Regions from separate parts of the Homo sapiens genome. Here region 2 is linked to region 1. A link means that fine-mapping ties the variant in region 1 to the expression of a gene that starts in the linked region. Tissue or cell type: CD4 T cells. Region 1 holds a variant in brackets; the other region holds the start of a gene. All regions are shown on one strand. Distances are from middle to middle.

What was found. PIP is the estimated chance that this variant, and not a neighbour inherited with it, causes the effect. A credible set is the group of variants that fine-mapping cannot tell apart.
Region 2: WFDC11 starts here. The variant in region 1 is the best candidate, but not a certain one, in a credible set for the expression of WFDC11 in CD4 T cells (CEDAR, PIP 0.64).

What each region holds. Positions count from the first base shown.
Region 1 is chr20:46,334,399-46,339,630 of GRCh38, forward strand. No RefSeq gene overlaps it. Among named protein-coding and RNA genes, the nearest start is that of SLC35H1, 27 kb to the right of the region's middle. RefSeq lists an enhancer at 3,125-3,626. The variant A/C (reference allele first, on the strand shown) is at 2,255.
Region 2 is chr20:45,668,144-45,673,375 of GRCh38, forward strand. It overlaps WFDC11 (WAP four-disulfide core domain 11), which reads right to left and starts at 2,096. Exons shown (of 5, transcript NM_147197.2): 1 at 2,035-2,096.

The sequences.
Region 1 (5,232 bases):
GGCTCAGCTGCCTGGAGTGGGTGAGCAGACCAGAAGCATGACCCTGCCCCACCCCCAGCCAGCTGCAGCCCGGGCCTGGGATGCTGGTTCCGCCAGCAGTTAAAGTCCCCCTGGTTGTCTAATTTAATCACAGCTGTGTGCACGGTGACTCTATAAATAATTTTTAGTGCGACATAACCATTATTTCACTAATTGCTTCACGCGCACCCCTGGCCTGTGAGATAAATTAAGGTTTGCTGAGTCAGCACCTTTGGCTGATGCTGCTTTGGGGTTTGGAAGTACAGCCCCAACAACTGGGCTGTTCCCACACCAGCCTCAGCCCAGCACTGAGGGGAGGGCGCCCCTCACGTGAAGTGGCCAAGGGTAGAATGAGTGAGGAGGAATGAGGAAAGGGCTAATAAGGGTGGCCATGTACAGTTGCACAGGTTGTGTCCTGCACCAGGGTGCTTGGCTAAGGGGGCAAGTGGGGGCTGAAATCCAGCCCATACTACACTTTTGCAATCCATGTGCTCTGACATGGGATTTTGTTGGCCCAGAAGAAGGTGGTACCTTCTTTTAATTTGCACAAAGGCTAGGAAGGAATCAGCAGCTCCAGAATGAACTACCACATAGCAGGTTGTCAGGGCCACCTCTCTGAGAGAGGAGGCCAGGCAGAATATCCTTAAGGATCTTCTCATGTTAGCAACAGCATGGAGACCCAGGCTCTAGATCTGATGCTGAGTGACCTGGGCAAGTGACCTTCCCTCCTCTGTGTTTTAATATCTTGACAGTTTGATCCCATCCAGAGCCTGTGTTCTTTCCTCTGCCTATCATACTCCAAATTCAGTAGGTGTGGCTGGAAAAAAAGGTTCACATGGTCAAGTACATTTGAGAAACATCGAGTTAAGTGGTTTCTTTCTGTAGAAATTTTCAGAGAGCCTACAGTGTGTTCAGGAGCAGCAGACTTGCAGGGAGGGGTGGAGATGGTGTAGCTTTTCCCAGTGCATTTGGCTGTGGAATCCTTCATTTTAGGACTCTTATTCATCCTGGGATCCTAGTGTCTATCTCTGGGCTTATTAGTGAGTGGATGTCATCCCCAAGGACAGAGAACGCTCCTATTCCTGGCCATAACTCTAGACTCAAGGCACTTCCCTATCTGTCATCTAGATCTGATGCTGAGTGACCTTGGGCAAGTGATGCAAGATTGCGAGTGGGCAAGATTGCTAGATCTTGCCTTCCTTCTTTGAAGGAAAATCTAGCAAAAATAGGTCTCCCTTCAAATCGGTGAAGTGTGGGGGGAGCATCCTGAGTCCACGGGACTCGAAGTTCCTTGAGGGCAGGTGCTATGTCTACCTTATTTATTGCCAGTTCCCTGGGGCTTAGCTTGGGACCATCTCTTGAGTGAATGAATGAGTGTCTATTTTGAAAAGAGACAGGAAAGGAGATAATTGGCTTCATATCCTGCCCCAAACCTTACTGGCTGGTGACCTTTGAGCAGATTGCTTCTGAGAGTCCAGTGCCACCACAGCTCTGTGTCTCTTTTGTCAAATGTAGATCAAGGACCAGATATGGTGGCTCACGCCTGTAATCCCAGCACTTTGGGAGGCCAAGGCGGGTGAATCACCTGAGGTCAGGAGTTCGAAACTAGCCTGGCCAACATGGTGAAACTCCGTCTCTACTAAAAATACAAAAATTAGCCGGGCATGGTGGTGCACACTTGTAATCCTAGCTCCTTGGGAGGCTGAGGCAGGAGAATCGCTTGAACCCGGGAGACGGAGGTTGCAGTGAGCCAAGATCGCTCCACTGCACTCCAGCCTGAGCAGCAGAGTGAAACTCCGTCTCAAAAAAAAAAAAAAAAAAAAAATTAAACTCTCGGTACTTCAGCCATAAAAAAGGAACGAGATCATGTCCTTTGCAGAGATACGGATGGAACTGAAGGCCATCATCCTTAGCAGACTAACGCAGGACCAGAAAACCAAATACTGCATGTTCTTACTTACAAGTGGGAGCTAAATGATGAGAACACATGGACCCAAAGGGGGAACAACACATACTGGGGCCTGTTGGAGGGTGGAGGGTGGGAGGAGGGACAGGAGCAGGGGAAAATAACTAATAGGTGCTAGGCTTAGTATCTGGGTGACAAAATAATCTGTACAACAAACCCTCAAGACATGGGTTTACCTATACAACAAATCTGCACTTGTAACCCCTGAACTTAAAAGTTAAAAACTCTCCATCCTCTCATTCCTAAAGTGCTGAAGTGAGGCTCAGATGC[A/C]AAGACGGTTGTGAGTGAGTGCTCCTTCCACAGTGTGAAACACTTGACAAATGCAAGGGATTAATCCTATGATCTGTATCCTCCTTGGTTCCCTCTCTGGGCTGGGCTGTGATCACGTATTCCAAGCTGCTGTTGACTGAGTGCTGACCTCGGGTCAGGGCCTGTCCCAGAGGTCTTTCACACATTCTGTGCACACTTGTCCAGTAACCCTCACAGCACTGTGAGAAGAAGGGATTACCTTTGTTTTATGAAAAAGAAAAGTGAGGTTCAGAGAGGTGATGTGGTTTACCTGAGGTCACACAGCTGTAAACTGCAGAGCTTGGGATTTGAATCCAGACATGGTTCCAAAACATGTCTTTTCTCTTCATTCCCAGCTTATTGGCTCCCAGGTTACCACCTTATTCTCCCCCTACTCCGTTTTGGGCAGGGTGTTGAGGCAGGTTATGCAGGGATGCTGGCTTCAGAGGACTACTGGCCTCCTTGTCAAGTCATTTTGCTATTTTCACAAGGACAAGGGCAACCATTTGTTGAGCATCTACCATGCATCTGGCATTGAGCTGGCTGCTTTAGATCTGTTATTTTCCCACATTAAATCCTCACCCAAAATCTATGATGTAGAAAAAACCACTCTCATTTTAGAAAGGGACACTGAGCTGGGCGCGGTGGCTCACACCTGTAATCCCAGTGCTTTGGAAAGCTCAGGTAGGAGGATCACTTGAGTCCAGGAGTTATAGACCGGCCTGGGCAACATAGGGAGACCCTGGCTCTACAAAAAGCTACAAAATTAGGCAGGCCTGGTGGTGCATGCCTGTAGTCCCAGCTACCTGGGAGGCTGAGTGGAAGGATCGCTTAAGCCCTGGAAGTTGAGGCTGCAGTGGGTCAAGATTGCGCCACTGCACTCTAGCATGGGAGACAGAGTGACACCCTGTCTCGAGGAAAAAAAAAAGGAGACCAAGGCTTGGAGTGGTTATGTGACCTGCTCAACCGCATGCAATTAGTAAACAAGCAGCCAAGCTGAAATTCCACCCAAGTGGGTCTGATCCCAGAAGCTGGCTATTTCCCTGGCTTCTCCTTCGTGGCCCTGAATATCCAGCCCCAGTTGGGGAGGGGTGACCTGTGGCTCCTGGGTCCAACACACTGGGTCTGTCTGCAATAGCTGCCGTGGAGACGTCCCCGCGGTGCATCATGACCTCTGGGGCTCTCCTTCCCCAGAGCCCCGTGGGCCCTGCCCTTGGTGCCTGGCACACTATTACTGCCTGGGAAACGCTGAAGAATGATGACAGGGCTGTAAGCCTGGCTTCTCCAAGTTTCTGCTTGACCTCCAAGGGACCAGAGGAGGAGCGGGGAGAGCAGGGAGTGGAGTGGCTGCCGACATCCACAGCTGATGCAGGGACTCGTGTGTGCCTGGGCCTCCCTCTGAAAGCTGCCTTTGGAAGGTGGTCACAGCCAGTCTGCTCACGCCCCCAGTCACGCCACCTATTAGCCTGGCTGCCCTGGGCACAGTGACCTCTCCCAGGCTGGCGTCCCCTCCCAGGGTGAGTCCATCACCACCAGTCACAGCCGAGCTCCTGTGCTTGGCTTTCAAGGCCCCTCGCATCTGCCTCAAGCCTCCCTGTCTTTCCAGCCTCCTCTATTGCTTATTCATTTATTTAAAAAATATTTGTTGATCAACTATGTGCCTGGCAGATGTTCTAGGTCCTGAAAATACAGCAGAGAACAGAACAGATAAAATCTCTGCTCTTCTGGGAAAAATTGACAGAAAGCAAGTTGACGAATAAATGTATGATGTTGGGTAGTGAAAGGGACTTATAAAAAAAAAAAAAAAAGAACCAGACCCTCCCCCTGCCCCAAGGCATCTAGAGATAGAATTCAGGGGGTCAGTGAAGTTAGAGGAGGAAAAAAATTATATTTTTATCTCACTAACCTGTAACTAAAATATCGCATTTTTCTTCAATTATAAATGTTGGCAACATACCACGGTAGTATTAGCAGTGCCTGTGACTTTGTCACCAACAGAAATCAGATATTTCCTATCACATTACAGTTGTTGCATACATTTTGAAACATCATTGACACTCATCACTGCTTCAAAATTGTTGTGGTTAATAGAACTGCCACGAGATCTTGTTATTTAATGCATTAATAAAGAAGTGCATCTAGTACTGTATCACTCATTTGTTTTGTAAATATTTTGAAAACGATTTCTATATAATTGGCTGCCTTGATAAATCTATGTATTTTCGTCTATGCCTTTAAAATCATTATTCTGAGAAGGGCTTCACCAGGGCCAAGGGGTCCATGGCCCCAGATGCATTAACTCCTGGAGTGGAGATGGATGGGGAGGAGGGGCGGGTTTTTAGCTGGAGTGGTCAAGGAAGCCTCTCCGGGGAGGTGGTATTTGATCAGCAACATAAAGTGGGCAAAGGAGCTGCCATGCGAAGATTTGAGTCAAATTCATTGCAGGCAGAGGGAACAGCAAGTCTAAGGGCTCTGGGGTAAGAAGGAACAATGAGGCCAAGGTGGCTGGAACAAAGTGACCAGCGAAGGGAGAAGACAGAGAGGCGCATGGACCACACATGATGTAAGGTCTGGCTTTGGTGAGGACTCGGGATTGTATTCCCAGCAAGGTGGGATGCTACGGAAGGGTTCTGAGTCAGGCGTGATGCATTCAGATTTCTCAATTAGAAGGATCCCTTTGGCTGTGGGGCAGAGAATGGGGCACTGAGTAGTGGGTAGGAGGGGAAGCAGGAAGACCAGGAGCTAGGGGTCTGCAGCATCCAGTGAAAGATCACGTGGCTTGGAGCAGGCTGAGACTGGAGAAGTGGCCCCATTCAGGATGCATCTTGAGACTGGAGCCTGCAGAGCTTATGAGGAACTAAAAGAGCCATTAACTTTCACCCTTCTGCTTTGGCTTATGCCACTCCTGGAACTCGCTTTCCTGCCATCTCCATCCTCCAGCCAGCTCTCTCCCTGGATTC
Region 2 (5,232 bases), 670 kb before region 1:
GAGCCACGATACATCTTGGGCTTATTCCCATCACCAAGGCACTCTCTCTAGATACCCTTACAGTGCTAGCAGAGGGGCATAATGGGAAGGGAAATTTCAGGAGCTGAGCTGACTGTGAGAGGCTCTGAGTAAGTCTTGACTGGGTCTAGGAATATTCCCAGAGTTGTTTGGTTGGGATGAGAAAGTGGGAAAGTGGGAGAGAAGCAAAGCCTGTAGATTGTCCTAACATTTTCTTCTCTAGTTCTATTTCCTTGCCTCTTCCCACTTTACAATATACTCTTGGCCTTGTCCTATTCCTGGGACCCCTCATCAATTTATATCATTTACTTCTCTCCGTAGGAAAAAAAAAAGAAAAAGATTTCTTTTCAAGATGTCATTTTTTGCTCTTGTACTAATAAAAGAGCAACTCATGCTTAGTGCATAAATTTTGTAAAAATATGAAAATGACAATTAAATTTAAAAATAATTGTTAATCTTGTCAACCTATGCTAACATTTGTGCATATATTCTAGTAGACTTTTTCTTATGTACATATATATTTTTATATAGTGGATAATCCTGTGACTATTTTTAAGTTTAACATTTACAATAAATATTTTCCTGTACTCCTAAATATTTTCAAAAATTTCATAGATTGGTAGATTACTCTGCCAATTAATCACCAGTTGTTGACAAGCTTGGTGGTTTCAGTTTTTCCCTATTGTAGAAATTCACTATTAGTTACATAATGATAACTAAATCCTTGAGTATTTATTTATTTATTCCTTGGGAAAGCCAATAAAAGTAGAAATACAGATAATTCAATCTGTGCATAAATATTACCAATTCTCTCTTCATAATGTTTAGGCTATACTTGCACCAACAAAGAAATGGTCTGAAAATGTCAGACCATTTCCTTCATCTTGACCCTGATATAGACATTCAGAGGATTCAGATGGTAGGTCGGAGGAGCCAGCAGGCTATTGACTATTCACAGTTGTCTAGTGTCACAATCACAGGCCTTACACTCATCCGATGTAAACTTAAAACCCATCTTTACAGAGGCAGATACTAAAAAATTAAAATTAAAATTAAAAAACCATCTTTATCATTTGCTAACTCCATGACCTTGGGTAACTCATTTCACTTCTGGAAAACTCCATTAAATCACATGGAAAAATTATAGCACAGGCATACCTCATAGATATTACAGATTCAGTTCCAGGCCACCCTAATAAAGTGAGTCAAACAAATATTTTGGTTTCTCAGTGCATATAAAAGATATGTTTACACTATACTGTGATCTACTAAGTGTGTGACAGCATTATGTATAAAAACAGTGTACATATCTTAATCCAAAAATAGTTTATTGATAGACATCAATACCAAGAGCTCTCAAAACCACACACTTACATGTGCTTGTTAGTACATGCTCCTGTTCCTGAATGACTTTTTGGTAAACAACAAAATTAAGACAGAAATCAAGAAGTTTTTTGAAACTAATAAGAACAAAGATACAACATACCAAAATCTCTGGGACACAATTAAACCAGTGTTGAGAGGAAAGTTTATAGCACTAAATGCCCACATCAAAAAGTTAGAAATATCTCCAATTAACCTAACATCACACCTAGAGGAACTTGAAAAACAAGAGCAAACCAACCCCAAAGCTAGTAGAAGAAAAGAAATAACCAAAATTAGAGCTGAACTGAACAAAATGGAGATAAGGGAAACCATACAAAAGATCCATGAAACCAAAAGTTGGTTCTTTGTAGAATAAATAAGACTGGTAGACCACTAGTTAGACTACTAAAGAAAGAGAAAATCCAGATAAACACAATCAAAAATAACAAAGGGGATATTACCACTGACCCCATAAAAATACAAACAAAAATCAGAGACTATTACAAACACCACTATGCACACAAACTAGAAAACCTACACAAAATTGATAACCTCTTGGAATCATACAAACTCCCAAGATTAAACCAGGATGAAATTGAACAGACCAATAACAAGTACCAAAATTTAATCAGTAATTAAAAAAAAACTTACCAACCAGAAAAGGCCCTGGACCAGATGGATTCACAGCCAAATTCTACCAGACATATAAAGAAGAGCTGGTGCCAATCCTACTGAAATTATTCCAAAAACTTGAGGAGGAGGGACTCCTCCCTAATTCATTCTATGAAGTCAGCATCATTCTGACATCAAAACCTGGCAGAGAGACAACAGAAAAAGAAAACTTCAGACCAATATCACTGATGAACATAGATGCAAAAATCCTAAACAAAATACTAGCAAACCAAATCCAGCAGTATATCAAAAAGCTAATCCACCACATTGTTTCCTGTTGGGAGCTCCCTGCAATACCCACCCCCCCTCCCCCCTGCCCCGCAAAAAAATGAATTCACCACAATCAAGTAGGCTTTATCCCTGGGAAGCAAGATTGATTCAACATATGCAAATCAATACATGTGATTCATCACATAAACCAAACTTTAAAAAAAGATCATCTTAATAGATGCAGAAGAGGCTTTTGATAAAATTTAACATCTTTTCATGTTAAAAACCCTCAACAAACCAGACATCAAAGGTACATACCACAAAATAGTAACAGTCAACTCTGACAATCCCACAGCCAACATCATAATGAATTGACAAAAGCTGGAAGCGTTCCTCTTGAGAAGCGGAACAAGACAAGGATGCCCACTCTTGCCACTCCTACTCAATATAGTATTGAAGTCCTAGCCAGAGCAATCATGCATGAGAAAGAAATAAAAGTCATCTAAATAGGAAGAGAGGAAGTCAAACTATGTTTGACAGACAATATTCACAGACAATATAAGCCTAGAAAACCCTGTAGTCTCTGCCCAAAGCTTCTAGATCTGATAAACCACTTCAGCAAAGGTTCAAGATACAAAATCAATGTACAAAAATCAGCATTTCTAGCAGCATTTCAATCGTATGAAATGCATAGAAATATGTCCAAGCTGAGAGTCAAATCAAGAATGCAATCCCACTCACAATAGCCACAATAAGAATAAAATACCTAGGAATACAGCTAAACAGGGAGGTGAAAGAGCTTTACAATGAGAATTATAAAACACTGTATCAGAGACAACACAAACAAACAGAAAAACATTCTATGCTCATGGATAGGAAGGGTCAATATTGTTAAAATAGTCATACTGCCCAAAACAATTTACGGATTCAATGTTATTCCTATATACAAACTACCAACATTTTTCACAGAATCAGAAAAAGCCATTTGAAAATGCATTTGGAAGCAAAAAGGGCCTGGATAGCCAAAACAATTCTAAGCAAAAAGACCAAAGCTGGAGGCATTATACTTCCAGACTTCAAACTATACTACAAGCCTACAGTAACCAAAACAGCATGGTACTGGTACAAAATGAGAATCATTAACAAATGAAACAGAATAGAGAACCCAGAAATAAAGCTACACACCTACAACTGTCTGATCTTCAATGAAGCTGACAAAAACAATCAATGGGAAAAGGACTTCCTATTCAATAAATGCTACTGGCATAACTGGCTAACCATATGCAGAAGAATGAAACTGGACCCCCACTTTTTACCACATACAAAAATCAATACAAGATGGATTAAAGACTTAAATGTAAAATCTAAAGCTATAAAGACCCTAGAAGAAAATCTAGAAAATACCATTCTGGACATTGGCCCAGGCAAAGACTTCATGATAAAAACTCTACAAGCAATTGCAACCAAAACAAAAATTGACAAGTGGGACCTAATTAAACTAAAGAGCTTCTACACTGGAAAAGAAACTATCAACAGAGTAAAAGACAACCTACAGAATGGGAACAAATATTTGCAAACTATGCATCCAACAAAGATCTAATATCCAGAATCTATAAAGAACTTAAATCAACAAGCAAAAAACAAAAAAAAATTTTAATGGGTAAAGGACATGAACAGACCCTTCTCAAAAGAAGACATAATGTGGCCAAAAAGCATATGATAAAAATGCTCAGTATCACTAATCATTAGGGAAATGCAATTCAAAACCACAATGAGATATTATCTCACACCAGTCAGAATGGCTGGTGAGGGAGAAAAGGGAATGCTTGTGCAGAGCTGGTGGTGTAAATTATTTCAGCCACTGTGAAAAGCAGTCTGGAGATTTCTCAGAGAACTTAAAATAGAACTACCATTTGACCCAGCAATTCCATTACTAAGTATATATCCAAGAGAATAGAAATTGTTCTACCATAAAGACATATGCCTGCGTATGTTCATCACAGCACTGTTCACAATAGCAAAGACATGGAATCAACCTAGGGTGCCCATCAATGGTGGACTCGATAAAGAACATGTGGTATGTATACACCATGAAATACTACCTATTTTTAAAAATGAGATCATGGCCTTTGCAGCAACATGGATGGAGCTGGAGGCCATTATCCTAAGCAAATTAAGCAGGAACAGAAAACCAAATACCACACATTCTCACATAAGTGTGAGCTAACCATTGAGTACACACGGGCACAAAGAAGGGAACACTAGACACTGGGACCTATTTTAGGGTGGAAGTTGGTATGAGAGTCGGATTGAAAAACTACCTATCATGGATTATGCTTATTACCTGGATGGCAAAATTATCTGTACACCAAACTCCCACAACACACAATTTATCCATCTAACAAACCTGCACATGTACTCCTTGAACCTAAAAGTTGGCAAGGCAAAAAAAAAGAAGAAAAATACTTTATTGCTCAAAATGTTAACATCATCTGAACCTTCAGCAAGTCAAAATCTTCTTGTTAGTGGAAGGCCTTGCCTCAGTGTTGATGGCTGCTGACTCATCAGGGTGGTGGCTGCTGAAAGTTAGGGTAGCTGCAGAAATTTCTTAAAATAAGACAATGAAGTTTGCCACATTGATTGATTGCCCTTCACAAACAATTGTGCAGTAGCATGCAATGTTGTTTGATAGCATTTTGCCCACAGTAGAACTTCTTTCAAAATTAGAGTCAATCCTCTCAAATCCTCTCATAAGGATTTGATAAAGTTGATAAAGTTGATAAAGTTGATAGCTTTATCAACTAAGTTTATGTGACATTCTAAATCATTTGTTGTCATTTCAACAATTCATTTTCTTCCTCAGCATGCTTACTAGGAGAAGTTTCCATCTCAATAAACCACATTCTTTGCTCATCCATTCAGGTTTTATCATGAGATTCCAGGAATTCAATCACATCTTTGGGCTCA